5 linked regions of the Homo sapiens genome follow. The protein of the gene in region 2 purifies or fractionates together with the protein of the main gene of each other region. This does not show direct contact. Each region holds a gene or a part of one and is shown on either strand. Other genes may lie near its edges.

What was found.
Region 1: the proteins of CNKSR3 (region 2) and TNIK purify together in Homo sapiens (co-immunoprecipitation; one large-scale study listed by IntAct). This does not show direct contact.
Region 3: the proteins of CNKSR3 (region 2) and COLGALT2 purify together in Homo sapiens (affinity purification with mass spectrometry; 2 studies listed by BioGRID and IntAct, with this or other methods). This does not show direct contact.
Region 4: the proteins of CNKSR3 (region 2) and BLK purify together in Homo sapiens (affinity purification with mass spectrometry; one large-scale study listed by BioGRID and IntAct). This does not show direct contact.
Region 5: the proteins of CNKSR3 (region 2) and KLK7 purify together in Homo sapiens (co-immunoprecipitation; one large-scale study listed by IntAct). This does not show direct contact.

What each region holds. Positions count from the first base shown.
Region 1 is NC_000003.12:171,063,556-171,069,942, forward strand, and holds part of TNIK (TRAF2 and NCK-interacting protein kinase), read right to left. Parts: intron 5,443-6,387; coding exon 5,293-5,442; intron 3,181-5,292; coding exon 3,021-3,180; intron 2,772-3,020; coding exon 2,632-2,771; intron 410-2,631; coding exon 326-409; 3' UTR 1-325. UniProt on the Homo sapiens protein: Serine/threonine kinase that acts as an essential activator of the Wnt signaling pathway. Recruited to promoters of Wnt target genes and required to activate their expression. May act by phosphorylating TCF4/TCF7L2.
Region 2 is NC_000006.12:154,390,851-154,397,237, forward strand, and holds part of CNKSR3 (connector enhancer of kinase suppressor of ras 3), read right to left. Parts: 3' UTR 1-6,387. UniProt on the Homo sapiens protein: Involved in transepithelial sodium transport. Regulates aldosterone-induced and epithelial sodium channel (ENaC)-mediated sodium transport through regulation of ENaC cell surface expression.
Region 3 is NC_000001.11:183,969,947-183,976,333, forward strand, and holds part of COLGALT2 (procollagen galactosyltransferase 2), read right to left. Parts: intron 5,269-6,387; coding exon 5,151-5,268; intron 3,805-5,150; coding exon 3,670-3,804; intron 1-3,669. UniProt on the Homo sapiens protein: Beta-galactosyltransferase that transfers beta-galactose to hydroxylysine residues of collagen.
Region 4 is NC_000008.11:11,498,179-11,504,386, reverse strand, and holds part of BLK (tyrosine-protein kinase Blk), read right to left. Parts: intron 1-6,208. UniProt on the Homo sapiens protein: Non-receptor tyrosine kinase involved in B-lymphocyte development, differentiation and signaling. B-cell receptor (BCR) signaling requires a tight regulation of several protein tyrosine kinases and phosphatases, and associated coreceptors.
Region 5 is NC_000019.10:50,976,478-50,981,839, forward strand, and holds part of KLK7 (kallikrein-7 isoform 1 preproprotein), read right to left. Parts: coding exon 5,290-5,362; intron 4,011-5,289; coding exon 3,763-4,010; intron 3,448-3,762; coding exon 3,311-3,447; intron 1,215-3,310; coding exon 1,059-1,214; 3' UTR 1-1,058. UniProt on the Homo sapiens protein: May catalyze the degradation of intercellular cohesive structures in the cornified layer of the skin in the continuous shedding of cells from the skin surface. Specific for amino acid residues with aromatic side chains in the P1 position.

The sequences.
Region 1 (6,387 bases), on a different chromosome or scaffold from region 2:
CATAACACAGCTTAATCGTTAAGAGCACACAATATTTGTTTCTATCCCTAATTCCGAAGGGCACATGGTCCATCTTTGTCCACAGACAAGGCAGCATTCTTGGGGATCTCCTGGAAATTCCTGCCACCTTTTTCTCTCCTTCTCAACCAGGCTGCAACATTGAAAGATGGACTGTACTGGGAGGGGCGGAGGGAGAGGAAAAAGGGAAAGCGATATGTTCAACCAAGCCTTCTGATTCTGCCTCTAGACTGGCATAAGTCCACATGAGTTATGTTCTTTTAAATTAGAAATAACGCCATGAAGATAAGTGCCAAGTGCTCTTCTGTTACCAGTTCATCATGGAATTTCTGTTGAGGGTCATGAAAAACACTTGGCTACTTCCTCCAGATCGCACGGATGCAAAAAATACCTGTTTGAAATTAAAAAGAAGTTAGTTCAACTGCATGGTCTTTTCCCCTCTTTTCTTCAACCGTCCATCCATTTTCTCTCACATGTCCTATCCTTGCCATGTGTCAGGTCTTAAGACTCAATGGCTTGTGTTTATAAAGTCCCTTTGGATATCGTGCATCCTATGTAAAAACTCCTGCCTTTATTCCTAGGTTGTTATTATTCCTTATTGTGGTATTGGTCTCCAGAGATGCTGAAGGGGCTATATCTTCATTTGTAACATCTCTTTGGGTGTTCACTTTTTAAAAGGGAGTTTCATGCTAGGATAACGTGCTGGATTTCTGGTCTAGGACCCAACAGGTTCTTTGTTAATTTCTAGAAAGGCACAGAAGCTTCCCTTCTCTCACCCTTAAATGACAAGAAAGTAGACTTCAGGATGGAAGGGAATCCCTTCAAATTCTCAAAGTCAAGGGGGAGTTTTAGGCCTACTGACTATCATACAGTTTCAGATTTCAGTTTTTTAAATTTAAGATAAAAACATTAAATAGTGTGGTCAGATAGGGCAAGGTATTTAATGCCTACTCATTTTGGCATTTCAAGAGTTAACGCATGGTTTCTCTGCTGATGGTGGCATATCCCAGGGCAAATGAGATCATAGCATTAATGAGGAGAACCACAGTCCATTAGGTCTGAGTCTGTTAAGTCATTTTATCAAACAACTGACAAACGTGAGAAAAATTTGGGTTACTGCTTGCTTGAGCTGAATGTTTAATGTTAAAGAACCACTGCCCCAGGAAAGTAATATTTTGGGCTATGGCCTAGCCCTTCAGTCAGTCAATACCTAACTTTTGTTAGGTAGTTGCTTTTGTCACTAGTCTAAAGTCTCTGCTACTTCATTTCTACAGCTTCTTCAGAAGAATGCTAACAACAACTTCTTAGGGAGGTCTCTGGAAATGCTTGACATTCACCTAATGCTGCATATGAAAGTAATGCTACTCTTAGGGTCAATGAATCAAAACGGAGAAGGACAGAGAGGGCCTATGGAAAACCACAATGAAGAAAAGAAAGGGCTGCTCTTCCCTCCAAGTTGTGTGCCCCTGGCTGTAAACCTTGGGTTGCAGACAACTGGTGTGGCCCCAGCCTACTCCTAAGGGTGTGGCATGGCTTGGAACAGCCCTGCTGGGGTAGGTTTTCAATCGGAATGTGGGTATCCATACCCAGATCACTCCTGGTTTTTTGATTCTTAGAGACTGGGTGGGAGCTGGAGTTTTACTAGGTTATGTTTGTTTTCTGGGAAATCTAAATGGCTGGAACCATCTTTGCCACCTGCAGCTACTGTCCACCCAGACCACATCAGGTCAGAGTAGTGGGCCAGGGTTGAATATAGTTTAGGCCCACATCACCAGGTTTGGACTAAGACCAACCTGACCTTTGGGGAACTGGGGTGGACAAAGGGATATACAAAAATTCAACCCATCATACTGTTTTTCTATAGGCGTTTATGTCTGTGGCTTTGGGGACAGCATTTCTATGTTGGCCACAGCCACAAAGGATGAATTCACAAATGCAGTATGGCTTAGCTACTAAAACCTCGGGGTTACTCTACAGGGAGGGTAAGGGAGAAGCAGTACTGCTGCAGAATACCCCTCTGAGGTCACTGATCATGCCAGACGGACACAGCCAATTTCACTGGAAAACAGTTCACCTATGACATTTCAGAAGAAACATGGCTGGAATGACACAAGACATGGCACTAGTTGAGTTTGTGATTGTGCATTCCTTAAGGAATGGGTGACATTTTTAAAAAGCTTATATTTCTAAACGTCAAATGTTTTGGATTTAAAGGTGAATATAAGGTGATTGGTTAGGTCTTGAAAGTGACTTTGTGAAAAGTCTAAAAGTGGAAGTATAAAGTTGACCCACTGTGAGATGATTAATGATGGGCCAACTGCTCTAAGTGCTTAGGAGAATTTGGGGTGTCTGCTGAGTCATCAAAAGGCCTTTAGGCCACAAAGGTTTCTAAGAGGTTTACAAGAAATTTCTAAATGTTTTTATGTAGTTTTTGACATGTGAATAATATATTGAGTGCTCACATGGATCAAACCAAATAATGCCATTTCAAGATAATATTGATTGTTTAACACAGATGTGATTCAAATCAGTATAAAGGAAAATGAAGGTTTCACAGGTACCTGGTGGTCTCTTAAAATGCAAACACTAATGCAAATGTTGAAACGGATTTACCTTATCATTTCTTTCACATAGAAACTTTAACCTTTGAGCTCGCTTATGCATAAATACTCCATCCAAATGTCCTGTTTCCACTGACCGGATCTCAATAGCTTTCTCGCCCCAGCCCATTATCTGATTGGAATGAATGTAGGCTGTCAAAAGGAATTTCCAAAACTGCATTAAAAACATTAGATGGGCAATAACTCACAGCATCTGTTCACATCTTAACCACAAAAATGACAAACGACTTGAGATAAATGGACAAAGCAAGTCTTACAAGAGTTATTCACAGATTTTTTTTTTTTTTTTTTTGTGGAATCAAATGGTTGTTTCACATTTCTTGATTTTCGTTTCATTTGGGGGGTGTAACTGCTGAAGGAGATAAGGAATGGTTAACCTACCCACAGACGTGGGCATTTCTCCCCATTGGAGCACCACATCCTTAGTTATCCGGCCATAGGTGTTTACATACACCCCCTCATCCTCATAGCAAACAAGCATTTCCATTCCATCTGTTTTAGGCAAGATGACAATAGCATGAGGAGTGATATTGCCCTGAATCTAGAAGACAAAGAAAAGCCAAGCATTATTCTTTTAAAAAATAAAACACCTTGACTATTCATCTCTAACAACTGCAAAAAAGAGGTTTTTGTTTATTTTCATTGTCACCCTAAAGACTGAAATTTGCTTTAATTTAACCACTGACTTGTAAAATACCCTGGTAAATCAAACTTAGTCACTAGATTAAAAATTCAATTTACCTGTTCCTAAAAAGAGCATGTAAATCTATGGCACACCTACTATGTGCCAGTCATGGGGCCCTTTACATATATAATTTCTAGTACCTACAATAGCTCCCCAAGGTAGATAGCTTTGTTTACAGATGAGGAAACTGCATCTCAGAAGGGCTTTGTGTCTTAACCAAAGTTGTGCTAGTATTTGTTGGTAGAGTTGGGATTTGTGTATATCTTGCTGACGTTGAAATTAATGTGTTTTCTATTAGCACAACCACTTCCAAAAGAAGATGAGGAGAATGTAAGCCAGCTGAATCTAATGGAGATAGCTTAAGTGGGGTCAAAATGAACTACCAAAATAATCTGTGAAAAAAAAATATATATATAGGATTGTTTATCCGGGTGTCTAAATGCCAGAATAATTCATGGCTTGGTTAGAAAAAATATTTAGAATGACCACTCATTAAAAAAAATCATTATTGCCGCACACAGTGGCTCATGCCTGTAATCCCAGCACTTTGGGAGGCCGAGGCGGGCGGATCACGACGTCAGGAGATCGAGACCATCCTGGCTAACACGATGAAACCCCGTCTCTACTAAAAATACAAAAAATTAGCCGGGCATGATGGTGGGCACCTGTAGTCCCAGCTACTCGGGAGGCTGAGGCAGGAGAATGGTGTGAACCCAGGAGAGGCGGAGCTTGCAGTGAGCCGAGATCACGCCACTGTACTCCAGCTTGGGTGACAGAGCGAGACTCCGTATCCAAAAAAAAAAAAAAAAAAATCACTATTGAAATAAGTGTATATTAATTTGTTCTAGGAAAGGAAATGTGATGTTGTTGTGATCCCCTAGTTGAGAATGCCATGGCAGCCCAACATGTGCTTGACAGATTGGACTAAGAGAGTTGAGGATTATCATAGTTACACCTTAGCTGCCTCACCAGGAATGTGAGCTGTGAGTCCTTGTGTTCACCCACATCCACATGAGTTAAAAGTGGTAATAATGCAGCAATGAATGGCAGTCGTGTGTGTGTATGTAATATACTGAAACAACTTCTTTTAGTTATTGCGTTTCATTAGAATAAAGTCTTAAAACTCTCAAAATACCAGTCAGCGGTAGCTTCAAACATTCCTGATAAATAGTTTCTCCTGTGTGTTAGTCTTGGGATTACACACAGGACACACACTTTACACTACACTTAATCCTAATAAGTGAATCCATGTGCAGCATTTCCCTTTAACAGTTATGTTTCAAGCAATATGTCAGGATAGTAATATGAATATTTTAGGGCTAATAAGAAGATCTACAATTTGCAGGGCCCTGTACCAACTGCTTTAGATCCATTACCTCATTTAATACTAATGATAATCCTATGGGATAAGTCTTTTTATCCATATTTTACAGATGCGAAAGCTGAGGATTGGAGAGGCTGCCTACTGTGTCCATTACTGCAAAGCTAATACATGCTAGAGCCACTGTGTCTGACTCCAGTGTACCACACTGCCCTCAAGCTGAAGAGAGGAACTAAAAATAGCAAAAAAAGAATTTTCTCCAATAAATTAGTACCTGACCATTGGCTTTCTCTAACATAAAATGAACGAATTTCCCTTCAAAAACTGAATGTGGAAACTTGTCTACCGAATATAATTCATGCCCTTGAAAGAAATATGTCATATTCATTTTAATCTAAAGTCCAAAGAGACAACATGTAAATGCCAAATGATTTCTATTATGTATTCCCCAATTTTAGGAAGTCATAAAAATTAGTTAAATTTATATATTTTAGTTATTAAAAGCAGTATACTTAATGAAGAACGAAAGTCCATTTGCTGGTTAGTAAAGTGTGCATGACTTCTACTAAAACTATGCAAAACAAATCTCTTTCTACATGCAGGCTGTTGTACAGAGAGCCCTTGAAAGTCTACTTCTGAGTACTTACATGAGATGGTATGTAGATATCATAAGAGTTTCCTGAATCAACATCAATTACATGGAAACCAGTGTGTGAACCAAAAATAACCTTTAATCTTTGACCTTCTTCTACCGTGAGATCAACTAGCAGAGGCTTGTGCTGGAGATCTGCAAAAGACTTTAAAAATCACCCCATTAGTATCCGCATCACTCAAAGAGGCATCTTAATTTTTTTCCTTTAGCCACTGTCTAGAGGAAGTTAACTTCTAACTTTATTAAAGTGAAAAACTAGAAAATTTCTCTTTCAGTTTTAGGTCTGTTGATATTCTGGCCCTAGGAGGAAGGGTCTAGCATCCATTTGTGCCCCTTTCTCTACCCTTTGTCCTTCGGGGCAGTGAAGTTTAAGTTGGTGCACAGGTGTAAATTTTGATAGTGGTAATGTATATTAAAAACCTGGTGCCTGGGTATTGCTGTTTTTTCCTGTTTATTTCTGGCCTTTGTCCTCTGAAGAAGGCCCAGTCACCTCTCTGGCCCCCCTCTTTCCCATGTGGCAACCAGGCCCATCCACAGCAACTACCCTTTCAGAGACAGCCTGGGAGGGACAGCCAAGGCCGGCTGTTTTCTCAGCCTGTTTAGTATTAATGGGCATGCTCTGGTTTGGATTTTTCTTCAGTGAATGAGTAGGCATAAGATTGGCACTTTCTCTTAATGTTGGAATCTGAGACTTGGGTTTGGGTGGTAGAGAAAGAGGTGGGAGTGGAACATCACAAGATTGATGGCTTGCATTGACTATTTGGGTTTAACTAGAAAGCAAAAAGAGAGATCTTGCCAAGTTTGTCAAAGTTCTCTGTGTTTGAATCCAGAGCCCAAGCCCCAACTAACTGTCAAGTGTTCCTCTGCCATTTTCCTTTGCTATTTTTTAACCACGCTCTACCTTTGGGCCTTGAGATCTGGGAGAGCATTTGTGAAACTACAATTGCCTTAACTATAATGCCACTGCTACCTCTCAGACCCTTCTCTTCTCATCTTTTGCTAACACCATTCTGACAGCATGGGAAGCTCTAGCGTCCTGTCCTTGTCCTATGGGAAGGCTTGGCCTCTTGCCAGTTCCACTCTTTCCTGT
Region 2 (6,387 bases):
AGTGCAGTGGCTCCATCTCGGCTCACTGCAACCTCCACCTCCCGGGTTCAAGTGATTCTCCTGCCTCAGCCTCCCAAGTAGCTGGGATTACAGGCACATGCCACCACGCCCAGCTAATTTTTATATTTTTAGTAGAGAGAGGGTTTCACCATTCTGGCCAGGCTGGTCTCGAACTCCTGACCTCAAGTGATTTGCCCACCTTGGCCTCCCAAACTGCTAGGATTACAAGCGGGAGCCATCGCGCCCGGCCTGACGCCTCTTTCTTTAGTGTGTAGCTGGTTTTCTTCTCCCCGACTTCACATGGTCTTTCCTCCATGTGCATACATATCTGTGTCCACATGTCCTTGATTGAGCCCACCATAATGACTGCATTTTAACTGAATCACTTTTTTTCTTTTTTTGAGACGGGGTCTCACTCTGTCACCCAGGCTGGAGTGCAGTGGCACAATCTCGGCTCACTGCAAGCTCCACCTCCTGGGTTCACACCATTCTCCTCCCTCAACTTCCCAAGTAGCTGAGACTACAGGCGCCTGCCACCACAACTGGCTAATTTTTTGTATTTTTAGTAGAGACAGGGTTTCATCGTGTTAGCCAGGATAGTCTCAATCTCCTGACCTCATGATCCGCCTGCCTCGGCCTCCCAAAGTGCTGGGATTACAGGCGTGAGCAATCAGGCCCAGCCTGAATCACTTCTTTAAAGACCGAATCTCCAAATACAGTTACATTCTGAGGTACTGGGGTTAGGACTTCAATATGTGAATTTGGAGAGAACGTAATTTAGTTCATGCCATTTTGTGTCACTTTGTGTCTTCTTTTGCTTCCCTTCTCTTTTTTCTCACCTCGCCTTGGGCTTGTATCTTCCAAATAAAACACCAATAGTTTCATCCTTGACACCAGCTCTGTAGAGATTTGGGCTAATGCAACTCTCTGTCACATACCTGTAGCTTCCTTCCTTTCCCACAATCTTGCTGCCCCGTCACAGGTAACCAACATCCTAAACTTGGTCTTTTCACATAAGTGTTGTGTCTAAATTATATATTTTTCAGTTTTACCTGTTTCTGAATGTTTAAAAAGAATGTAGCTGGGCATGGTGGCTCATGCCTGTAATCCCAGCACTTTGGAAGGCTGAGGCAGGCGGATCATGAGGTCAAGAGACAGAGACCATCCTGGCCAACATGGTGAAACCCCGTCACTATTAAAAATACAAAAATTAGCTTGGTGTGGTGGTGCGCACCTGTAGTCCCAGCTACTCGGGCAGCTGAGGCAGGAGAATCGCTCGAACCTGGGAGGTGGAGGTTGCAGTGAGCCGAGATGGAGCCACTGCACTCCAGCCTGGGCAACAGAGAGAGACTCCATCTCAAAAAAAAAAAAAGAGTGTACCATTATATGTTGTCTTCTGATGCTTTTTCCCACTCAGCACTATATTAATAAAATCCATCTCTTTGATATGAATAGCTGTAATTTATTCATTTTTACTTGCTGCAGAATATTCCATGGTAAGAATATACCACATGTAAACCTTTTTTTGCCAACAGACATTGGGCTGTGTTCTACAAAGGCAGATGGCCAAACAGCACACATAACAGGCACCCTAGAGACCCTCTGCTGGGGATGCCTTGAGAAAAAGCAGTAGAAGGAGTGCAGGTCCCCTGCTGTCAATTTCATCTGGGGCACTAAACAGATGGCTAAAGGAGCCCACCCTCAGAATCCAAAAGAGGGTCCCGAAACCTTGTGGGGATTGTAAGCTCTATGATGAAGGAGGCACCAGCCTCTCTATTGGCATCATCAGAGGTTGTGTTTGCAGCTAGGCAACACTGCAAACTAGCAGCAGGATTTGCTTCATTAGCATCGATGTTTGGGGAACAAGGAGCCCTTGCCTCCCCTGACGGCAGCAGCAGAATGGGGTCTAAGCCTTGCATTTGATGAGACTTCACTGCCCTAAGTCATGGGTCATTGCCAGTTTCCATGGAGCTCCACAAGAGCCTGACTTCTTTTCTGGGAAACCAACTTCTAGAACACTTTGAAATGTTAGCATTGTCCTCTGAGGTAGTTAGTGGTTTGTTTGTTTGTTTGTTTGTTTGGAGATGGAGTCTCATTCTGTCGCCCAGGCTGGAGTACAGTGGCACAATCTCAGCTCACTGCAACCTCCACCTCCGGGGTTCAAGCGATTCTCCCACCTCAGCCTCCCAAGTAGCTGGGATTACAGGTGCCCGCCACCACGCCTGGCTAATTTTTGTATTTTTAGTAGAGATGGGGTTTCACCATGTTGGCCAGTCTGGTCTCGAACCCCTGACCTCAAGTGATCCACCTGCCTTGGCCTCCCAAAGTGCTGGGATTGTAGGTGTGAGCCACTGCACCCACCTACTTAGTGTTTCTAATCCCCAGGATATATATCTAGGAATGAAACTGCTGAGTCATAGGGTATGTGAATACTCACTGCTAATTTAACCTCATACACATAATATACCAGATCCCACTGATCGTTCTAGGATATCCTCCAAGTATTTTCTAATCATTTCAGTTTTGCCAGTCAGGTAGAGAGCAGCATCTCCCTGTGATTTTGACTTCACTTTCCCTGCTCGCTAGTGAAAATCGCTTCACATGCATATGGACCATCTGATTCTCTTTTGCAAAATGCCTTTTCGCTCGTTTTTGTGTTGATTTGTCATTCTCTTGCCAATTTGTAATAATTATATGTATATATTCTTACTGCTAACCCTTAGGACTTTTTAATCTTCTCCCAATTTGTAACTTTTTAAAAATTTTCTTTAAGGTGTCCTATGATGAGGAAAAGTTCTAAGCTTTAGCGTAGCTGAATTTATTAGTCTTTTCTTTTGTACTCAGCCCTTTTACTGTCTTCTATAAGAAATCTTTCCCTATCCAAGGTTACAAAAACAAATTTCAAAATGATTCATAGATCAAATAATAAATCATAATAGAAATTAAAAATTAGTTAGAATTAAAGAGTAATGAAAATGCCATATACCAAGCCTTGCAAAACATGGCAAAATAAATGTTTTGGGGAAAATGTAGTCTTGAGTATTAATATTAGAAAAGAGTTGTAAATTAATAAGCTAAATATCCAACTTAAGAAACATGTCAGAGACCACTCATCCTGACCAATATCACTCTCCCAACCTTCCTTGAAGTTGCAGTGGCTGTGATTGTCATTTCTTTTCTTTTGTGAGATGAGGGTTTTGCTTTGTCATCCAGACTGGAGTGCAGTGGTGTAAACCTGGTTTACTGTAACCTCAAACTCCTGGGCTCCAGCGATTATCCCACCTCAGCCTCCCAAATAGCTGGGACCACAGGTGTACACCACCAAGCCTGGTTGTTATATTTTTTTGAAAGATAGGGTCTCACTATGGTGCCCAGCTGGTCTTGAACTTCTGGTCTCAAGCAATCCTCCCAGCTCAATCTCCCAATTGTTGGGTTTCTGACTGTTAGCCACCACACATGGCCTTATTATTGTCACTTCTAGGCCAGGTTGGTTGAGTATTCACTTTCCTGGGACCCATCTCCCAATTTACCAGGTGGATAATGCCTGGGTCACCTTGAAGTCCAAAATTGGAGACACCATAACCACGCTGGAGACACCAGGAGCAACCCAAGTCCCTGAGTCACTAGCTAGAGGACAGCCACAGAGCATTACCCAACCTGGAACATCCAAAGTGGACGTTGATGAGGAAAATGTAAACTCTTAGTGTGTAAAGTCACTGAGATTTGGGGGTTGTTTGTTATAGCATGAGCCTAATACAAGAAGTAAAAAAAAAAAAAAAAAAAAAGAAGAATTCCAAAGGAAACAGAAGAAAATAGAAAATAAAAAGCAGAAATCAGTGAAATTGAAAACAAAGAAACAACAGAAAGGCCCAACAAAGGGACCACTGTTCTTTCCTGAACCTTAGGAAAGCCATCAGATAACTGTCCGATTCTGTTCTTAGTCCTCTTGCCAAGTCTATTTTCCTCTCCCCACGCTGTTCACAAGAAGAGCATATAGAGAACCTGCATATATAAAGCTGTGTGGGTTGGATTCTTTGTTGCTTATACCTCCAATGGCCAAATACATTTTCTTTCGTCACAGGAACTAAAGGAAAGAGATGGTCTGAGCACAGAGAATGAATCTAGGAGAGAGGTGACTGGTTTGGGCTGCATCAGGAAAATGCGAAGGCTAAAGACCAGAGCAAGAGACCAAAATGCAGGGAGTACAGGTGGAAAAGGTCAAGTGGAACGGAGGTGCCCAGGGCAGGAGAGCAGGGCTTCCTGGCAAGCTTAGGACGCGTGCTCCCCCTGCAAGGAGAGAAGGAAAAAGTAAGAGTTTTCTTATTTGCATGCATCAAGTATTTTCCATTGCCAAGAAGAGAATTCAATCCCATTTCCCATGTAATGAGTGAAGGGTAGTCTATGTTTCCAGTTAATTCTACAAGAGTGCTTTTGAAAAAAGTACTCCAAAGAATTGGGAAAATGATCATACAGAGCCCTGGTAACAGTCATCATCATCATCCATTGCTGTTTACAAAGGAGACTCTGTATTTAACCACCCAGGATCTCTTTATTTTAATTTGTTTTCTTTGTTGAACTGCATCATAATTGAGTATCTCCTGCTACTTGTTATCTTTTTGCAGTGCAGGATGTGTGGGGGAGCAGAATTTCCACTTGTTTTCTTTCATCAACAAAGTAGAACATCACAGACTCAGATGAGCCCTATGTAGCAATATGCAAAGGACATTACTTGAAAACTCAACTTTCTTGTTCTCAGACTTTTATTAATGCAGTTTGTTGTCTCCAAAAGAGCAGCAACAATATTCTCAGTGGTTCTACCACTCAACCCCTTGGGATGAAGGTTCTTAGTAATATTTCACTATTTAGTCTACAGCCTATATATGCATGTACGTTTTGTTTGTTTGAGATGGAGTCTCACTCTGTCACCAGGCTGGAGTGCAGTGGTGCAATCTGGGCTTACTGCAGCCTCTACCTCTCAGGCTCAAGAGATCCTCCCATCTCAGCCTCCTGAGTAGCTGGGACTACAGGTGCACACCACCACACTCGGTTAATTTTGTTTGTTTGGAGGCAGGGTTTCACCATGTTGTCCAGGCTGGTCTCAAACTCCTGGGCTCAAGCAATCCACCGGCCTCAGCCTCCCAAAATGCTGAGATTACAGGCATGAGCCAACTGTGCCCAGCCAGCCTTAGTATTTATAGACCTGGTTTCCTCAGGTCCAAATCCCTCTCCTTCAATCAAATGTTATACAACTGCAACTGTCCTCCACGTCGCCTCCATTTATAGAGCATTCTATGACCTTACCTCCCCACCATTAACTTTTCCCTGGCTAATTTGAAACTGCCTGTACGAGCTTTAAATGAGTTCTTTGTGGACTTCGGAAAGTGCTTACATTCTCAGCAGTTCCTGTAATCCTGTAACCAAAGAAGCGTTGTTGATGGCCAAGGCTTATTCTTCCTACAAATATGATTGAGTTCTGACACCTGGTATAATGTTTTCTTTAAAATGAGAGCCAATGTAATAAAATTCTTTATGGAATAGTCTGCAAAATGCTTTAATATATTAATAAAATTAAAACAATTTTCACAGAAAATTTTAATAATTTTTTCTAACTTCTTTTCTGATTGCACAGTTAATTTTACCATCTAGTTACTTCAATAATATTTTCTCTGCCTACAGAGCAAATATAAGGGTAAATTATACAGACCCTGCTTTAGAAAGGCTCACAATTCAAGCTGGTCTAACACGATGAGTCAATGCTATGGAAAAACAGAAGAGACCAGTTAATTCTATTCAGAGTAAGATCAAGGAGGACCTCATATGGATGACCTTGGGACTTACTGGGGTAACTAGACCGAGAAGGATGAGTCCATTATCAGGATTTAAGAATCCAGAACTAAGTGCTAAGTAAGGGGTTTAAGGAAAGCATCAGCAAAAATTCACTAATTGTTTTCTTTTTTTTTTTTTTTTGAGACGGAGTCTCGCTCTGTCTCCCAGGCTGGAGTGCAGTGGCGCAATCTCGGCTCACTGCAAGTTGCGCCTCCCGGGTTCACGCCATTCTCCTGCCTCAACCTCCCGAGTAGCTGGGACTACAGGCGCCCGCCACCACGCCCGGCTAATTTTTTTTTTTTTATATTTTTAGTAGAGACGGGGTTTCACCGTGTTAGCCAGGATGGTCTCGATCTCCTGACCTTGTGATCCACCTGCCTCAGCCTCCCAAAGTGCTGGGATTACAGGCGTGACCCACCGCGCCCGGCCTCACTAATTGTTAGTTTAAATTACCACCTACATGAAGTCTTATACCCTGGCTTTGTATTTTATGTTGGCTAAAGAGAATGATTCAATAAGACTATAGGATAAAGGCACCATTAAAGGTGCTTCAGTGGCATT
Region 3 (6,387 bases), on a different chromosome or scaffold from region 2:
TGGGGTTAGCTGTAAAATTTAAGTAAGGTAGAACCTGAATAGTGTTGAGACTACTGCCCAGCACCAAGAATGTATCAGCAAATACCGGCTCCTATTAAAATGACATTACACTGTGGCTAATATTTGTAATTAAACATGCATTACTTAGATATACAAATGAGGGTCTTCTTTCAATGCAGTTACTTAGTCAATATTCTGGTGAAGCTGCAGCTGCTCCATAGTTTTTGGGGATTCAGCTTCTGAAACGTCCTTCTGCACAAGCACACAGGACAACCAATTTCCTTATTCCAAAGCTTGAATCATTTCCAGAAAAGATGAAGATATATCTCAACAAAACATGCTTACAAAACATACTTGTGGAAGCTTTGCCAGGCATTTTGGAAAATGTTCTAGGTGATGGCAGGCTCACTGGAATGAGTGTTAAGTTTTGCAAAGCCAGCACTCCGAAGGGCACCATACTCTGGAAGTTCTTATGTGTTCATTAATCAGTTGCATCACTTCATGGTTACATTTCCTGTTGTAATTCAGCATCCACACATAAGGTGCTACAGCCTCACCTACTTCTCTGACATTCCCTTCAGGTTCTAGAAGAGTGTCCTAGCTGAGCTAACCCTAATGCCGACCCCATGATAAGGGAGGAGGATCAAAAATGAGGACTCAGAAGATGTGGGTCTCAGAGTCATCTTAATCACCTTCTAGCCGTTTGATCTTAGTCCATGCCTACCCTCTTTGAGCCTGAGTTTTTTCTCCTGAAAAATGGGATAACAGCTGCTCTGTCAATCTCATAGAGCTGCAGAATGAATCACATGTGATAAGGTCTATGAACCTATTTTGGGAACTGCAATTCATTATATGAAGTATTATCATTACTATAATGTTTTTATTAGCCTTTAACTTAAGGATCATTTAACATCCTCTATGGTTTTCCTAATACTTCAGCTTATGAGCAGTCTTCCAAGAGATAAAGGGGACTCGGGTTTTTTAAAGGGCTGCCTAAGTACTTGCGTCTAATATAAAGTTCTAGATTACTTAGGAACAATATTCCCAGAATGATTAGCTTGGAAAATCCATGATGATGATGAATCACTGAATATCCTTGGGGTGGGGGTGAGAAGGAAGGAAGCAGGGAGAGTGAGGGAGAATAAATGTGCCTCCTGCAAAGAGGCAGAGATGATGAATGTGTTCCTTTTTCCACATAAATTGAATCTTGTTGGTAATAATTCCTGTTCATTGGCCAGACAACATCAAGGACATTTTGTTTTGAATGAGTTTAAAGGCTCTGGGAACCAGGTCCTGCTTTGAATTTATGAAGTCACTGGCCCTTTCTATTCCTGCTCTAGTAGAGACTAACTGGGATGGTAGAAAGCCAAAAATAAATGGAGGAAAATAATACTTGTCCCTAAGTTGCTCAGAATTTAGTTTTACTGTACAAAACAAGTGAGCACATTTCTCCTATTTGCTTTTAAGCCTGAAAGTAAATAAGGAGATAATACAAATTTGTAGGCTGCGGCCACTAGGATAACCCACCCTTGTTGCTGATGTCAAAGCACAACTCATTAAAAACAACCCTCAAGTGATTCTGCCATGTGAAACACTGAAAATGTATGAATTTAAACCAATATAATGTTTTCTCCCAAGGAAGTGAATGGCTGTTAGAAATATGAACATATTACCTTCCCAAAAGAGACACAGAAAATAGCACGCATTCAAAATCTCTTACAGCTAGAAGAAATAATTACAACAAAAGAGGAATGCTTCATCCAGTGGTGTACTGGACCACACATTGTTAAATTTTCAGAAAGTTTGCAAACCAGTTGACATGTTGATAGCTTGGAATCCATAAAAACAAAAATCACGTTAATCCCCACCACTCTAATGACACCTCATGTGGCAGTTTTACATGTTTTTAATAGCTGTATCATCAAGTGGCTATACTGCAGTTTACTTAACCTTTCCCTTAGCTTAACAACATTTAAGCTGTTTGCATGGTGGGAGTATTTAAACCATAAAAATTGGCAATGCTACCAACTAGGGTTTTTCCCACAAAGAGCCAGTTATTAAACATTTATCAGCACACTACTGACCTTATTTCTCATCCAAAACAAAACCAAATATAAAGGGGAGACTCAAACTTTAGCCCTTTGGCCATGAGAATACATTGAACATACTCCCTCTTTTTTTGAGACAGGGTCTCAGTTGCTTAGGCTGCAGTGCAGTGGTGTGATCATAGCTCACTGCAGCCTCAACTTCTTGGGCTCAAGCAATACTCCCTGCTCAGCCTCCCGAATAGATGGAACTATAGGTGTGCACGACACCACAACTGGTTAATTTTTTGATTTGTTGTAGAGATGTGGTTTCGCCATGTTGCTCATGTTGGTCTCAAACTCCTGGGTTCAAGTAATTGTCCTACCTCAGCTTCCCAAAGTGTTGAAATTACAGGCATGAGACACTGCTCCTGGCCAACATATTTTGCTTAGCACATTTTTATCCTACATTGATACATATTACATTAATCAGTTGAATTTATCTAATTCTTTAATTAAAGAATAAAAAATATAACCAGCCATGAGCATTCACTAAAACAGACCACTATTTTGAAGATTTTACTATGAAAAAAAGAAATAATAAAAAATCAAACCTTTTTTAACTTGAATTTTATAAAAATAACCTACCATGGTAGTTTTCATTATTAGAACTCTTTGGAAATAAATTTGGCAACATACATCGAAGGTCATTGAAATATTTGTACTTTTTTTTTTTTTTTCTTTTTTGAGAGGGAGTCTCGCTCTGTCACCCAGGCTGGAGCGCAGTGGCGCGACCTCGGCTCACTGCAAGCTCCGCCTCCCAAGTTCACGCCATTCTCCTGCCTCAGCCTTCCGAGTAGCTGGGACTATAGGCGCCCAACACCACGCCTGGCTAATTTTTTATATTTTTAGTAGAGATGAGGTTTCACCATGTTAGCCAGGATGGTCTCAATCTCCTGACCTTGTAATCCGCCCGCCTTGGCCTCCCAAAGTGCTGGGATCACAGGTGTGAGCCACCGCGCCTGGCATATTTGTACTGTTTGACTCAGTAATTCCACTTCTAAAAAGCTATCCTAAGGATATAATCTTAAATGCTGAAAAATTATATTAATCATGACGGTCACGATAGTTAAAAAGTTGTGAATAATTTAAATGTTTTTCAAACCGAGATAAAGGTTAAGTAAATTGGAACATAGCCACTTGATGATAACACAGTTACTAAAAACGTGCAAGTTTCTATCTATGATGTTGTTACGGTGATGGGGATTTAACATCTGTCTTGTTGGTTTTCTTTTAAACTTTTTTTAATTTCTAAGTTTTTCTATAGTGTTCTTATGTTAGTTTTGTAAGGACAAAAAGAATTAATTAAAAATAGTAATTCCTGAATCAGGAATTGGCTAATTTGACGTTTCTAAGGCTAAGCTCTTTAGACTATTTTTTTCATAATAAATTAACACAGAAGAGCCCAACTGGGTGTAGCATTGGACCCAGATTTACTGCCCTTCCTAAAAAATGCTTGCTCTGGGAACACAATGACACGCATGTTTCAAGGGAGTAAACAAGAGAAAGGTGAATGGGACTACTGTTGACCGGGTGTTGCCTTGTTAAAACTAGTAGCCTTAATTCATTTAAGCAAAAGACTTGCCTTAGGGGTGATTCCGCACCAGAAATTAGAATACAGGCCCCGAGACTCCAGCATGGGGGCCACAATAGTTTTGTTTTCTGCAATCAGTAGATTGAGGGTCTGTGGATTAGTCAGGAAATTGTCAACATCTATGAACTAGGAAAAGAAAAGGATAATGTTAGGTGAAAAGGTACTTTTCAGTAATGAGTTTGAGAATAACCCAGCCCTTCTGAAGGATCCCAGAAACTTGCTCATGACATATGGAACCAGCTATCTATGTCCTCCTTATTGAAACCCATTGCAGCTAGGTGGCTTTCATTCAGTCAAAATATATTTAGTCTAACTTTCGTATGTTGGGCTCTGCATAAGGCACTAAGCAGTAAATTGGTGCTGCCATACTGGGCATAGCCTCAACCAGGAACCAACCTACACTTTGGCTAGTGTTTTAGGCACAAGATATTAATGGCTCCCAAGCCATTAAAGGTTCATTCAAAAACACTTATTGGCTGCCCAGTCTAGGTACAGATGGGCATGCCTACTTAGCTTTTCTATAGTAATGCCAGAGTAGCTCAAAACAGATCTATCAATGAATTTTAATGTGACAAGTAGAATTTTTGTTTAAGTACATTATATCAACCCATGCTAACCAGTGAAGCTATTTCCTATTCTTAGAAGTCCATGTTAACAGTGATTTATTTAGAGACAGTATAACAACAGATTCTAATTTATAAAAGAAATAATCATACTGAACTATACACTGAAAAAGGGATAAACTGACAGATTTTACCTTTTGTAGGTTTTATCACAATAAAAAATTCAGAAGTCTTCATTTTTATGATAGTCCATCTGTTTACCCCAAATTTTGTGATTTAACATTTGTACACTTCAATGGCATTTAAACAGCTACACAATGTTAAATATTGTCAGTACAATTTGAAAACTTCTATGAAAGGATTTGTGTCACAAGTGTGCGTGATACATTTTTGGGCAGATTTTCACTGTGGTTGAGGGGATGGGGATGGACATAAATTCTCCAAAGAGAGCATCACTGTGCCAAGCAACAGATGCTACTCCCCAGATCATTCAGGAGCAAAAGGGAACCATTTCAGAGCTGTTCAGCTGAATCACTTTTTTAGATAATTACTTTTTCATATCCCCCAAATTCTTCCAAAAAGTTGTAAGAACAACTTACATTGCTTTACCTACAGCCTTTCCTGTGAGCTAAAAATATGCAGAGTTCTTATGCCTGTTGCATGGCAGAGACCAAATAATTCAGGCACTTCTTCACTTACCCACTGAAAATGCATGTGGGCCTGAAGATGAAGTCCAGGTAGCCCAATTTTAAACTACCAAAAATTTCATTGTGCCTTTCTTAAAAAGTGGGGGAGGCACTGCCTAATCAAAAAGGTTGTTTTGATTGCTTCCATGGTTCTAGTTTTTGGACGACTGATTTGGATACACCTGAGATGACAGTTGTCAAGAAATCAAACATCTGTTTTTACCAGAATGTAGTCTGACCATTTTTCCCTCGCAGTTCGAAGGGCTGCCTGTCGTAGTTTCATCACATGGGCAAACCGGGAGGTTGGCCAGTGCTTTGGTCCAATTTCATCAGGGTAAGACCTAAAATAATAATAATAGCTCATCATTATTGAGTGCCTACATGTACCAGGCTCTGTCCTAAATGTTTATATGTATTCATTTAATCTTCTATCAATCCCAGGAAGTAGATACTATTATTATTGTTATCATCATCCCCATATTACAGATGAGGAAACCGGAGCAATGAGAAGTCAAGTAACTCACTGCTCATTGTATACAAGAATCTTTACATGAAATATTTCAGTGGGTTCTAATGAGAGCCCTTTGAGGTGAGTACTGCTATTCTCTGCATTTCACAGGTGAGGATATCAGGGTAGAGCAGTTAAGTCATTCGTCCAATGTTACACAATGGGGCACAATCAAGATTTGAATCCAAGCAAAAAGCTCATGTTCCTAGACAATTTTTATACATCCCGACATCGAATAGATTTGGAGAGTATGCAGTGTAAAACATGAGTTTCCCAGGAAAATCAAAGGTTTAATCTACTTGTTGGAGTCTCCACAAATGATTCCACACAGCCTAACACATTGATCTATCTTAGGTAAAGTGAGGTCGTGGGATCTCTATCAAGATTCACAAAACAGCCAGGCCAAGACTCCTTCATGGCCACATAGGCAAGTGGGTTGGAGCACGCTCCAAAACCCTTCTGAAGGCACCCAGCTGGCACGGACATTGATACTGTTGCAGTAACCCAAAACTGGCCACCACTTCAAGATCTCATAGCTGCACTGGCAGTACATTTGTTTTAGTGAGTGAAAAACTGCAAAAACAATGAGACTGTAACTAAACAAATAAGGTTAATAAAACTATGTACAGCACAGGAATTCTCTGGAATATCTTCCCCAGTTATTGTTTCAATGAAAATCAGTGGAATTCTCATTTTTCTAAATATATTCCCCCCAAAAATGCCTGTTCTAATATTTTTTCACACTGACCTTGGCATATAATATATTTAGTCAAAACCTGGCTGCAGAGAACATTACCAAGGTGCAAAGAAGGGACACAAAGTATTTCTGTGCCATTTTTGTTAGGCCAAACTCCATTATAAGGCACTCTAAAGGAGTGTTTACAATCTTTTACGGTGTTCAGACTTCACTGTTAAATTTTGCTTGATATACAGTCCATGGGCTTGGATTTGA
Region 4 (6,208 bases), on a different chromosome or scaffold from region 2:
CTTTTCTTTTCTTTTCTTTCTTCCTTCCTTCCTTCCTTCCTTCCTCCCTTCCTTTCTTTATTTTGAGATGGAATCTCGCTCTGTTGCTCAAGCTGGAGTGCAATGGTGCGATCTCAGCTCACTGCAACCTTTGCCTCCTTGGGTTCAAGCAATTCTCCTACCTCAGCCTCCTGAGTAGCTGGGATTACAGTCGCACACCACCACACCCAGCTAATTTTTGCATTTTGAGTAGAGACAGTTTCGCCATGTTGGCCAGACCAGTCTCAAACTCCTGACCTCAAGTGATCCGCCTGCCTCGGCCTCCCAAAGTACTGAGATTACAGGTGTGTGCCACTGTGCCTGGATGTGAATGGGATCTTTCTAAAGCCAGGACCTAAGCTCCAAGAAAGGCTGGGGAGACTTTAGCCCCAGGGTAGATCCCTTCATCTCCCGGCCAGGAGCCTCTCTGGGGGTAGTTTTGATTCCCACTTGCTAGTTCCCACAGGACACTTGTCTGGGTGGCAACGTGGAGTGCCGGAACCTGGAAAGATGCACTTGACCAGCAGGGGAGGGTGGAAGATGGCCCCTTTCACTGCGAGCCCAGGGCAGCCAGCAGCCTCAGCAGAGGTGAGGCCCAGGCAAGAAAGAGGACAGAGTGACCTCTTCCATCCTCCACACCTGCACATAGGAACCTCCAGTCTGGTGACCAAGAGAGCAGGTGTCTCCTTGCAAGTCTCAGCCCTCAGACCTTGCCAAGAAAGAGCACCCTTGCTTACTTCAGACAGCACACAGATCCCTGGTCCACGGCAGGAAATCACCCAGCCACATGCTCACACTGACCTGGTGGCAAAGGCCTCTCTGAAAAGGGTCACCCTGTATAAGGCTTGGGCACAGGATGGAGCAGAAAAAAATAGAGCATCTCACGTCCCACCTGACACAGGGGCAGGTGACAAAGCTGCACCTCTCCCTTTGGGAGTTACTAGTCGTCTGGGTGTGCCAGCACCCCCAGATCTTTCTGATCAGAGGAAACCAGATAAAAGCCATAAACGCACTTTGCAGAAGAGTGCCCACCTACACACAAGCTCCCATCCAAGATCAGGAGCTGACAGGCTACCAGGAGACTCATCAGAAGCCCAGGGGCTAGAAGGTCAGAACCAGCTTAATCTATTAAGTGCAGAACATCAAATGTCCTTTTAGATGCTACGTGTGGTTGTGTGCTTCACACATACACAAACATTCTCTGCACTTGAACAACCTCAAGCATCAGGGCCTCCTTCAGTTTTGCACCCCAGGTGTGTCTTTACCTCCCTCTGGTCCTGGCTCAGCATCCCAGGTATCAATCTGTGCAAAGAGGCCAGCAGAGAGTAGAGATGAGAAGGAGCCCAAGGGGACATCCTTGTATCCCATGGTTGTGGAAAACAGTAGCCGTTTTGCGAGTGGGGACTTGCGAACCCCACAGTGGCTGGCAGCAGCTGGTGTAGGGACATGACAGCCATGGGGACAGGTTCTCCATCCAGGCCCACAGGCCCACCCCCCTTCCCCTGCCACCGAGCACAAAGCAGGGTCACCCACCTGGGCCTCCGCTGTCAGGCTCGGGACTCAGGAGAGCCCAGGAGGCAAGTTATTCTCCACTTGTCCCCACTTGGCTGCAGGCAGGACCCTGATCTGCAGTGTGGCCTCAAGACACTCGGCCTCCCCGTCAGTGATGCACTGGGGGCCAGCTTGTGCCGGTATGCTAGAGCCGGTTGTTAAATTCTCAGGAATTTTGTGAGCTGAATTATTCAAATCATTATGCAAGATTAAGGTATAAAAACTATACGGGCCGGGCGTGGTGGCTCATGTCTGTAATCCCAGCAGTTTGGGAGGCCGAACTGGGCAGATCACTTGAGGTCAGGAGTTCAAGACCAGCCTGGCTAACTCTACTTAAAATACAAAAATTAGCCAGGCATGGTGGCGGGTGCCTGTAATCCCAGCTAATTGGGAGGATGAGGCAGGAGAATCCCTTAAACCCAGGAGGTGGAAGTTGCAGTGACCAGAGATCGTGCCACTGCACTGCAGCCTGGGCAACAGAGTAAGACTCCTTCTCAAAGAAAAATAAAAAAGAAAGAAAAAGAAAAAAAAACTATATAAAATTAAAATGATAAAAAATTAAAGTTGAATTATACAAGATACAACTAAATGGATTCTATTAAAACAAAGGTTATAAATACTTAAACCTCATCACTTCCTGATTATTTTTACTGCATCTTAATAATAGCTATGCTTTGAGGTTCTTTAACTGACTGTGTCTATAAGGCGGAAGTACTCTATCGTGCTGTGCTGCTGCGCATCTCGAACCCATGTTCACGCAAGTCATGTTAGCAACTTGAAATTGGCCCTGGTGGGAGTATTTATACAACAGGAACAGGCAAATGCTACAGGTCGGCAGTGATTTGTTTCATGGATTTTCTATGCTTAAAAGAGCATCTTGTCTGTAGCTAGAACACTGTGAGTAGCACAAAACATTGAGGAAACTTTTCTGAATATTGAAAAACTACTACCCAGTTCAACAAAGAAGCCGCTCATGGCACTAAGGCTGCAGCCTGCCCCAACTCTTTGTTGTTTCACTTTGATCTGCTCCTTAACATGAATGAACATTTCAGTGTTTGTGCCAACACCACACTTGCTCATCTGCTGCAACCAATGCTTGGCTACGGATATGACAGTGCAAAGTCACGAGAGCTTTCTATGAGACTCAATCACCTCTGCGGTATTTAGGACAGAGACTATTGCATATTTTGTTATTATTTGTAAATTAAGTGCTACGCATCCTTTATATCAGTACATGTTACTATAAACTTATGTATGTATACAATACATTTGTTTCCTGGAAAGCTGGTTGTTAAACGTTTACCAGGACGCCATGCTCTTCATCTACAAGATGCCTATCTTGACCTCACACTTCCCCCAGTGTGCTGGCAGGTGCCAGAGAGCCCATCAGATAGACAGACAGACAGACACCACAAAGTAGAAATGATTCCTTTCCATGCTAATGTGTTAAAAAAAAAAAAAAGAGAGAGAGTTTAGCCTTTCCCATAAAGCACCAAATAAAATCAAGAAAATGGGCTATGACTTTTGACCCTATTTTCGTGTGTAATACTTTTTAAAGGATCCTTTTATTTATTCAAATAAAATAGTAAATAAAATTAAAAGTATCATTTAATTTTTAATTTTTTTCACTCTGTCGTCCAAGCTGGAGTGCAGCGGCAGTCTCAGCTCACTGCTGAGATCTCCTGGGTTCAAGCAATTCTCCTGCCTCAGCCTTCTGAGTAGCTGGGATTACAGGTGCCTGCCACCATGCCCAGCTAATTTTTGTATTTTTGGTAGAGATGGGGTTTCACCATGTTGGCCAGGCTGGTCTCGAACCCCTGACCTCAAGCAATCCTCCCACCTTGGCCTCCCAAAGTGCTGGGATTACAGGTGTGAGCCACCACGCCTGGCCAAAATAAAAAGTATTATTTAACTTTATGTAAAAATCCAATTGCACCACAGAAATGGCAGGAATAAAAGAATCTTAAAATGAAATAATTTATATAAACTTTAACATAAAAGGTAGAGCCAGGCATGGTCACTCATGCCTGTAATCCCAGCACTTTGGGAGGCTGAGGCAGGCAGATTGCTTGAGCTCAGGAGGTTGAGACCAGCCTAGACAACATGGTAAAAACCCATCTCTACAAAAACCAAAATTAGCCAGGCGTGGTGGTGCACACCTGTGGTCCCAACTACTTGGGAGGCTGAGGTGGGAGGATTGCCTGAGCTGGGGAAGTGGAGGCTGCAGTGAGCCATGATTACACCACTGCACTCCAGCCTGGGAGGCAGAGCGAGACCCTATCTCAAACAAACAAAAACAAAATAAAACAAAACAAAAAAACAGGCCAGGTGCAGTGGTTTATGCTTGTAATCCCAACACTTTGGGAGGCCAAGGCAGGCAGATCACTTGAGGTCCAGAGTTTGAGACCAGCCTGGCCAACATGATGAAACCCTGTCTCTATCAAAAAAATACAAAAATTAGCAGGGCGTGGTGGTGCACACCTGTAGTCCTAGCTACTCGGGAGGCTGAGGTGGGAGAGTTGCTTGAACCCGGGAGGCGGAGGATGTAGTGAGCTGAGATCAAACCATTGCACTCCAGCCTGGGCAACAGAGTGAGACCTTGTCTCAAACAACAACAACAAAAACAAACACCCCCCAAATCAATCTAAGGTGGAATATGTGTAAAAATAAGCTATTTCTATAACTGTAATAGACTCACAGCTGGACATTTGACTGCAGGTTGGCTCCCTCAGTGAATTTTTCTGTTTTGTACACAGATAGGGAACTAATCCTTAGTGAGCACCCTCACTGTATATCAGGCTCTTTCAGAAATGCTGTCCTGCTTGTATTTGTTTATATATTCATTTCCTAGTGTTTCCAGAAAAGATTTGAGACCGCTTATAAAAATACATACAATACAACAGGATAGAAAAACAGATAAAGAAATTAGACCAAAGGGTAAGTTAGGGCAGAAAAAAAAATGTGTATAAAGCTGGTGCACAGAAATACAAACTGTGACATGCTGTCACCAAACTGCTAGTGGTTAGATGCAAATTGGGTTCTAAGTGTCCTGGAGTCCAAGCACAAAGAAGAAAATAATCAGTTTGAAGAGTCACAGTGTCTGTAAGACATCCATTGCTCCAGAGAGGCATGGATTTCCTGGATCTGGAGTCTGAGAGTCATCCTCTCTGGGCTTCTCCTGTGGAGGTCCTGGGTGGAATGCGAACAGCTTAACGTCATCTCAGCAATAAATTCCACTGTGAGTTTCCAACCTCTGTTTCTTATGCAGCCTTCAGCACAAGCCACGGCAGTGTACCCATGCCAAGAAAGAATGCCCACATCTGACTCAGGAAATGAGATTCTCTCAGGATCTCAAGCACTGTGAGATCCAAACACACAGCTCTTGGACTGACTATCTGGATACAGGGGAAGTTCCCAAAATATAGTTACGTATTGCTTCACTACAGGGATCTGTTCTGAAAAATGTGTCATTAGGTGATTTTGTTGTTCTGCGAACATCGTATACAAAACTTAGATGGTAGAGCCTACTCCACCCCTAGGCTCTGTGGCATAGCCGGTTGCTTCTAGGCTACACACCTACACAGCCTGCGACTGTACTAAATACTGCAGGCAGTAGTAACACAGTGGTGAATATTTGTGTCTCTAAACATAGAACAGGTACAGGCAAAATACAGTGTCTTCATCTTATGAGACCACCATCATATATGTAGTCTGTGATTGACCGAAATCTTATGTGCCCTGTGACTGTGTCTAGGTTCATGGCTCTCAATCTTACTAAATTTACTTTCTCTTTTGAGAAACAACAACACCATGCTCTCCTTTGTGAGGTTTCAAAATGAATATTGGGCATAAAAGTAAATCAAAGAAGTTGTCATGTAAGATGTGTCTTTTTGAAGTACAAGGACCCCCTGGTGGTTCTGACATTGAGAATTGAGTGCACCCTGTAAGAAAAGTTGTGTGCTCCTCAGCTTCAACTCACCTAAAAATTAGGGCTTTGTAATTTAATTCTGTTAATCCTGTGATGTGCTATTATCAATGAATGAAGAAATAAGACTGAGAGGATATAATTAACCTACCCGAGACAGGTAAGGCTGCTCGTATACAGTGGGGTCAAACTATTATCATCTCAGGAAGGCACACAGTGACTTGCTCACATTGCCAGGGCTGAACCTTGCACTGGAGCCCTCTGGTTGACAAGGCCAGCCGTCTAACCACTACACTGCAGGACGAGACCACTCAGATGTGGCTGCTTTGTCTGACTTCTATGTCCAAGTCCTTTCCACTTCCTCATATCCACAACACGCTGAGAGAGAAAATTAAAGTAGTCTTCCTAGATATTTGACTGTGTGATTCCAAATATTTTGGGGTTCACAGACCCCTTTGGGAATCTGACAAAAACTGTAAGTACCCACCTACACAAAAGCTTGTTTACAAGTTCACGGAGCTCAGAGCACCAGGAAACTCATCAGGAATCCACAGACTCAATGCTCAGAACCCACTTCATCTATTAAGCACAGAACCTCAAATGCCCTTATAGACACCACATGGCATTGTGCGTTTCACACATACACAAACTTTTCCTGCACTTGAACGACCTGAGCATGGGAGCCTCCTTACATTTTGCATCCCAGGTGTGTCT
Region 5 (5,362 bases), on a different chromosome or scaffold from region 2:
AGACTTTTTTCCCCACCTTTATTTTTCATGTTATAAAAGTGCACATTCAAGGAAAAGTACACAGAAGGAAGGAGACACCTCATGACGACCCCAGTATGCAGTCTGGGACATGTGTTTTCAGATCTGATTCTGTGAATATTTCATTTTTTATGGGTAGGGTCACATACATATATATTTTTGTCCTTCCTTTTGTCATTTAACATCCTATAGCCTAAATGTTCTTGAATAATACTGACAATTCTGTCTAAGTATCATTTTTAATAGGTTTGTAATATCATTGTGGGCTGGCCGTGGTGGCTCATGCCTGTAATCCCAGCACTTTGGGAGGCCAAGGTGGGTGGATCATCTGAGGTCAGGCGTTCAAGACCATGCTGGCCAACATGGTGAAACCCTGTCTCTAGTAAAAATACACAAAAAATTAGCCTGGTGTGGTGGTGCACACCTGTAGTCCCAGGTACTTGGGAGGCTGAAGCACGAGAATCACTTGAACCCAGGAGGCGGAGGTTGCAGTGAGCCAAGATTGCATCACTGCATTGCAGCCCAAGCAACAGAGACTCTGTCTCAAAGAAAAAAAACATCGTTGTGCCAAGCCAGACTATTATTTAAGCCATCTGGTACTTTTGGAACATGTTTGATGGTTTCACTTCATTTCTGTGATAAATAATATCATGGTAAATTCAAGTCTTGTTCTACATTTTGGATTTTTTTTGTTTCAGTAGGTTCTTCCTAAGATTAGAGTTACTGGGTCAAAGGTGGTGAATAAGGGTCTCGGTGTACGTTGACCAAGTGTCTTCCGTAAAGACTGTACGAACGTCCAGTTCCAGTGTTTGAGAGTGCTGGTCTCACTGACTCTTCTCCAGCACTGAGGGTTTTGTGTTTCTTTATTTGTTTTGGTTTTAGGTCTTTACCAATTTGATTGGTTTATCAACAGGGCATGAGGTTGGTTTAAATATATCTTTGAGGAAAGGTAAAGTCAAATTTGACTTCATAGGTCATCGGCGTCCTCACTCCTGTGCATTTTCTGTTGGAAGCACACAGTTAATTAACTCAGTGTGGCGTTAGCGATGCTTTTTCATGGTGTCATTTATCCACTTGGTGAACTTGCACACTTGAGTGTAGACTCCTGGGTCATTGGGTTGGCCGCAAGGGAAAGTTCCCCAGGACACCAGACCTTGCAGGGTACCTCTGCACACCAACGGTCCCCCTGAGTCACCCTAGAGGGAATAGAGCCGGAGATTAACTTTGGCTTCAGATCAAAGCCCAACTCATTCTCATACATTCCTCAGTTATCGGTCTTTGTCTTGCAGATTATGGACTTCCACCATAGCCAATGAGAAGAGACTCATTGTCTCTGGGGACTAATGGGAGAGCTAGTGCTAGGGACACACTAGGTCCTTTGAAGACACTGGTTTGACCCTTGGCCAATGAGACCAATTGCAGAGAAGGGGTGGGGCTTCCAGGATCAGAGCACTCTTTATTTTCCAATGTTAAGGACCCTGCTCCAAGCTAGTGGGAGAAGGAACATCATCTCCAAGGGGTGGATGCGTGCCCTGTGGCGCAGGAAAGGGGGACACGATGGTCTCGGAGACCAGGGTGAAGACCAGTTACATAATTTACAGGACTTGGTGCAAAACGAAAATGCAGGGCCCTTTGTTCAAAAATTATTGAGAATTTCAAGACAACAGCAGGAATGCATTAGACTAAGTTTGAGACCCTTCTGAGTGTGGGGCTCTGTGTCCGTGCAGAGCTTGCACATTCATGAAACTGGCCCTCACCAGGGGAGAAGGGGAACACCCTATTCTCTAGGACAGTCATCTCTCTCCCATCTCCTCTATCCCTAACACTCACCATCCCACATCCCCTGACAGCTGAAGGTGCAGATGTGAGCAAGGAGGATGGGTGTGGAGAGACAGAGAGAGTTGGAGGTGGAGAAGAAAGAGGGAAAGGAGAGAGAGACAAAGAGAGATGAGGAAGAGGGAAAGGGTATGGGGAGAGAGAGAGACAGAGAGATGGGGGTGGAAAAGAAGGAGGGAGAAGAGAGACAGACAAAGAGATGAGGGAGATGGGGAGGGTGTGGGAAGAGAAGAGAGAGAGAGATGGGGGTGGAGAAGAAAGAGGGAGAAGAGAGAGACAAAGAGAAAGGGGGGGAAGGTGTGGGGAGAGAGATGGGGTGGGGGTGGGGAGAGGAGAGAGAGACTGGAAGAGAGGAGGAGAATAAAGAGAGAGAAAGAAAGACAGAGATGGGGGAGCGGCAGGGAGAGGAGAGAGATAGAAGAAAGAGAAAGAGAGAGACAGTAAAAAGGAGGGGGCAAGGAGAGATGAGGGAGAGAGATGAAGAGAGACAGAGAAGTGGGGGAGAGAGAGAAAGAGGAGAGGGCCAGAGAGGAGACAGAGAGAGAGGAAAAAAGAGAGAGCAGGGGGGCAGGGAGAGGAGAGAGGGAGGGGAGGAGAGAGAGAGAAGCAAGAGAAAGAGGGAGAAGACAGAGAGCAGAGAGGAGGGCATGGAGAGAGAACAAGGGAGGGAGAGCAAGCTAGCTCAACACAGAGAAAAAACAAAGAGGAAAAGAATGAAATGAAATTATGTCACAAAGAGAGATGTGGGAAGACTGTTCAGAAACAGAGGGGATGACAAAAGGCCAGAAAGAGGGAACAGAGAGGAGGTGGAGAGAAAGAGTGTTTTCCCCGGGACCAGGGCCAGGGTCAGGTGAGTGAGTCATCAGCTTCAGGCACAAAATCTCAGTAACTGCAATACACAATACTTCAATGCAGTACTTAACGAAATCAAATGTAATACATAAAACTGCATGATGGGCATGGTATCCACATTTTAAATGAAGACAGTGCCAGTACAGCGCTGTGCTGAGCCACGCTAGTACTTACGGCAAGGGAAAATTCAGTAAGATCCACCTGCTCTTTATTTAAAATGTGACATTTTGTCCATCATGGACTTCTGCATGAGTTTTTATTTTTATTTTTAAATATTGCATTATGATTTATCTCAATCACTGAGGTTTTTGGTGCCCCCTTAAGGTTTGGGCCTGAGGCCAGCACCTCAGTCTCCTTCCCTGGTCCCACCCCCACTTTCTCACCCCTATTAAACTCTCTGTCTCATCCCCAGGGCCACATTGGCCCCTAAGTAAACTCCCACCCCTGACCTAGGCAGAGAATGAGGTGGAAAAAGCTGAGGAGGCCAGGCCTGGGGGGAGGGCAAGGCCGGGCTTGGTACCCAGTCACTCGGGTCAAGCTCTGTCCCTGGGGCATGCAGACAGGGTACCCAGGACTGGGGAGGAATTGGGGGGGAGGGTCTCACATTGCAGGCGTTTTTCTTGGAGTCGGGGATGCCAGCGCACAGCATGGAATTTTCCAGTAAGTCCTTGTAAACCTTCGTGCAGTCCTGGGGGGAGATGAGCTTGACATCCACGCACATGAGGTCAGAGGGAAAGGTCACTGCAGGGAGGAGCAGGGAGAGCTGTCAGTCAGAGAGGATGGGGGCGAGGACCAGAAGGGCTGTTGTTCAGGCTCCTGGTTCCGAGGGAGGAGGGTCTGGGGCCCAGGACTGCTGGGTCTGAGGGAGGAGGGGCTGGGGTCTGGACTCCCGGGTCTGAGGGAGGAGGGGCTGGGGGCCTGGACTCCTGGGTCTGAGGGAGGAGGGGCTGAGGCCTGGACTCCTGGGTCTGAGGGAGGAGGGGCTGGGGGCCTGGACTCCTGGGTCTGAGGGAGGAGGGCTGGGGCCTGCACTCCTGGGTCACTGAGGCCACCTACCATCTGGGCTCGTGGTAGTGCCCCAGCCGGAGACAGTACAGGTGGTTCCAGGGGGTTCGCAGCGGGAGGGCAGCCTGACTTTCTTCACCATGGATGACAGCCTGGCCTGGCTATTGAGCTTCACGAGCATGAGGTCATTAACATGGGTCTGTGTGGAGTAGCCGGGGTGGCGGAATGACTTCGAGGCCTTGATCCTCTGAGCTCTCCTGTCGCCCAGCGTATCACTGCCCAGGTGCACGGTGTACTCACTGCGAGGAGTGACATTCACAGATTCAGAAGAGACACTGTGACAGAGAGGGTGTGCAAAGACCTGGGGGACGGGGTGGGGACAGAGACCCAGAGAGAGGAGGGGGGACAGAGACACAGAGAGAGGAGGGGAGACAGAGACCCAGAGAGAGGGGAACAGAGATCCAGAGAGAGAGGGGGACAGAGCCCCAGAGAGAGGGAGACAGAGACCCAGAGAGGGGGGGACAGAGACCCAGAGAGAGGAGGGGGGAGAGAGACACAGAGATAGGAGGGGGGACAGAGACACAGAGAGAGGAGGGGGGAGAGAGACACAGAGAGAGGAGAGGGGACAGAGACCCAGAGAGAGGGGAACAGAGACCCAGAGAGAGAGGGGGACAGAGATCCAGAGAGAGAGGGACAGAGACCCAGAGAGAGAGGGACAGAGACCCAGAGAGAGGGGAACAGAGACCAGAGAGAGAGGGGGACAGAGCCCCAGAGAGAGGAAGACAGAGAGCCAGGGAGAGAGGGGGACAGAGCCCCAGGGAGAGGGGGACAGAGATCCAGAGAGAGAGGAGGGGGAACAGAGACCAGAGAGAGAGGGGAACAGAGACCCAGAGAGAGAGGGACAGAGACCCACAGAGAGAGGAGGGGGAACAGAGACCAGAGAGAGAGGGTGACAGAGACCCAGAGAGAGAGGGTGACAGAGACCCAGAGAGAGAGGGACAGAGACCAGAGAGAGAGGAGGGGGAACAGAGACCAGAGAGAGAGGGGGACAGAGACCCAGAGAGAGAGGGACAGAGACCCAGAAAGAGAGGAGGGGGAACAGAGACCCGGAGAGAGAAGGGGACAGAGACACAGAGGGGAACAGAGATCCAGAGAGAAAGGCAGACAGAGACCCAGAGAGAGGGGGACAGAGCCCCAGGGAGAGGGGGTACAGAGGCCCAGGGAGAGGGGGACAGAGATCCAGAGAGAGAGGGGGACAGAGACCAGAGAGAGAGGGACAGAGACCCAGAGAGAGAGGAGGGGGAACAGAGACCTAGAGAGAATGGGGGACAGAGACACAGAGAGAGGGGAACAGAGATCCAGAGAGAGGGGGACAGAGACCCAGAGAGAGGGAGACAGAGAGCCAGGGAGAGAGGGGGACAGAGCCCCAGGGAGAGGGGGTACAGAGGCCCAGAGAGAGGAGGACAGAGACCCAGAGAGAGGAGAATAGAGCCGTAGGCACAGAAAGACTGCCCTTCCACCCCCATAGCGAGCTGGAGACGCTGGTGCACCTCCAGCAGAGACTTGGGCGGCACCTACTTCATCTTGCAGTGGGCGGCAGTGAGCACCCAGCGCTCATTGACCAGGACGCCTCCGCAGTGGAGCTGATTGC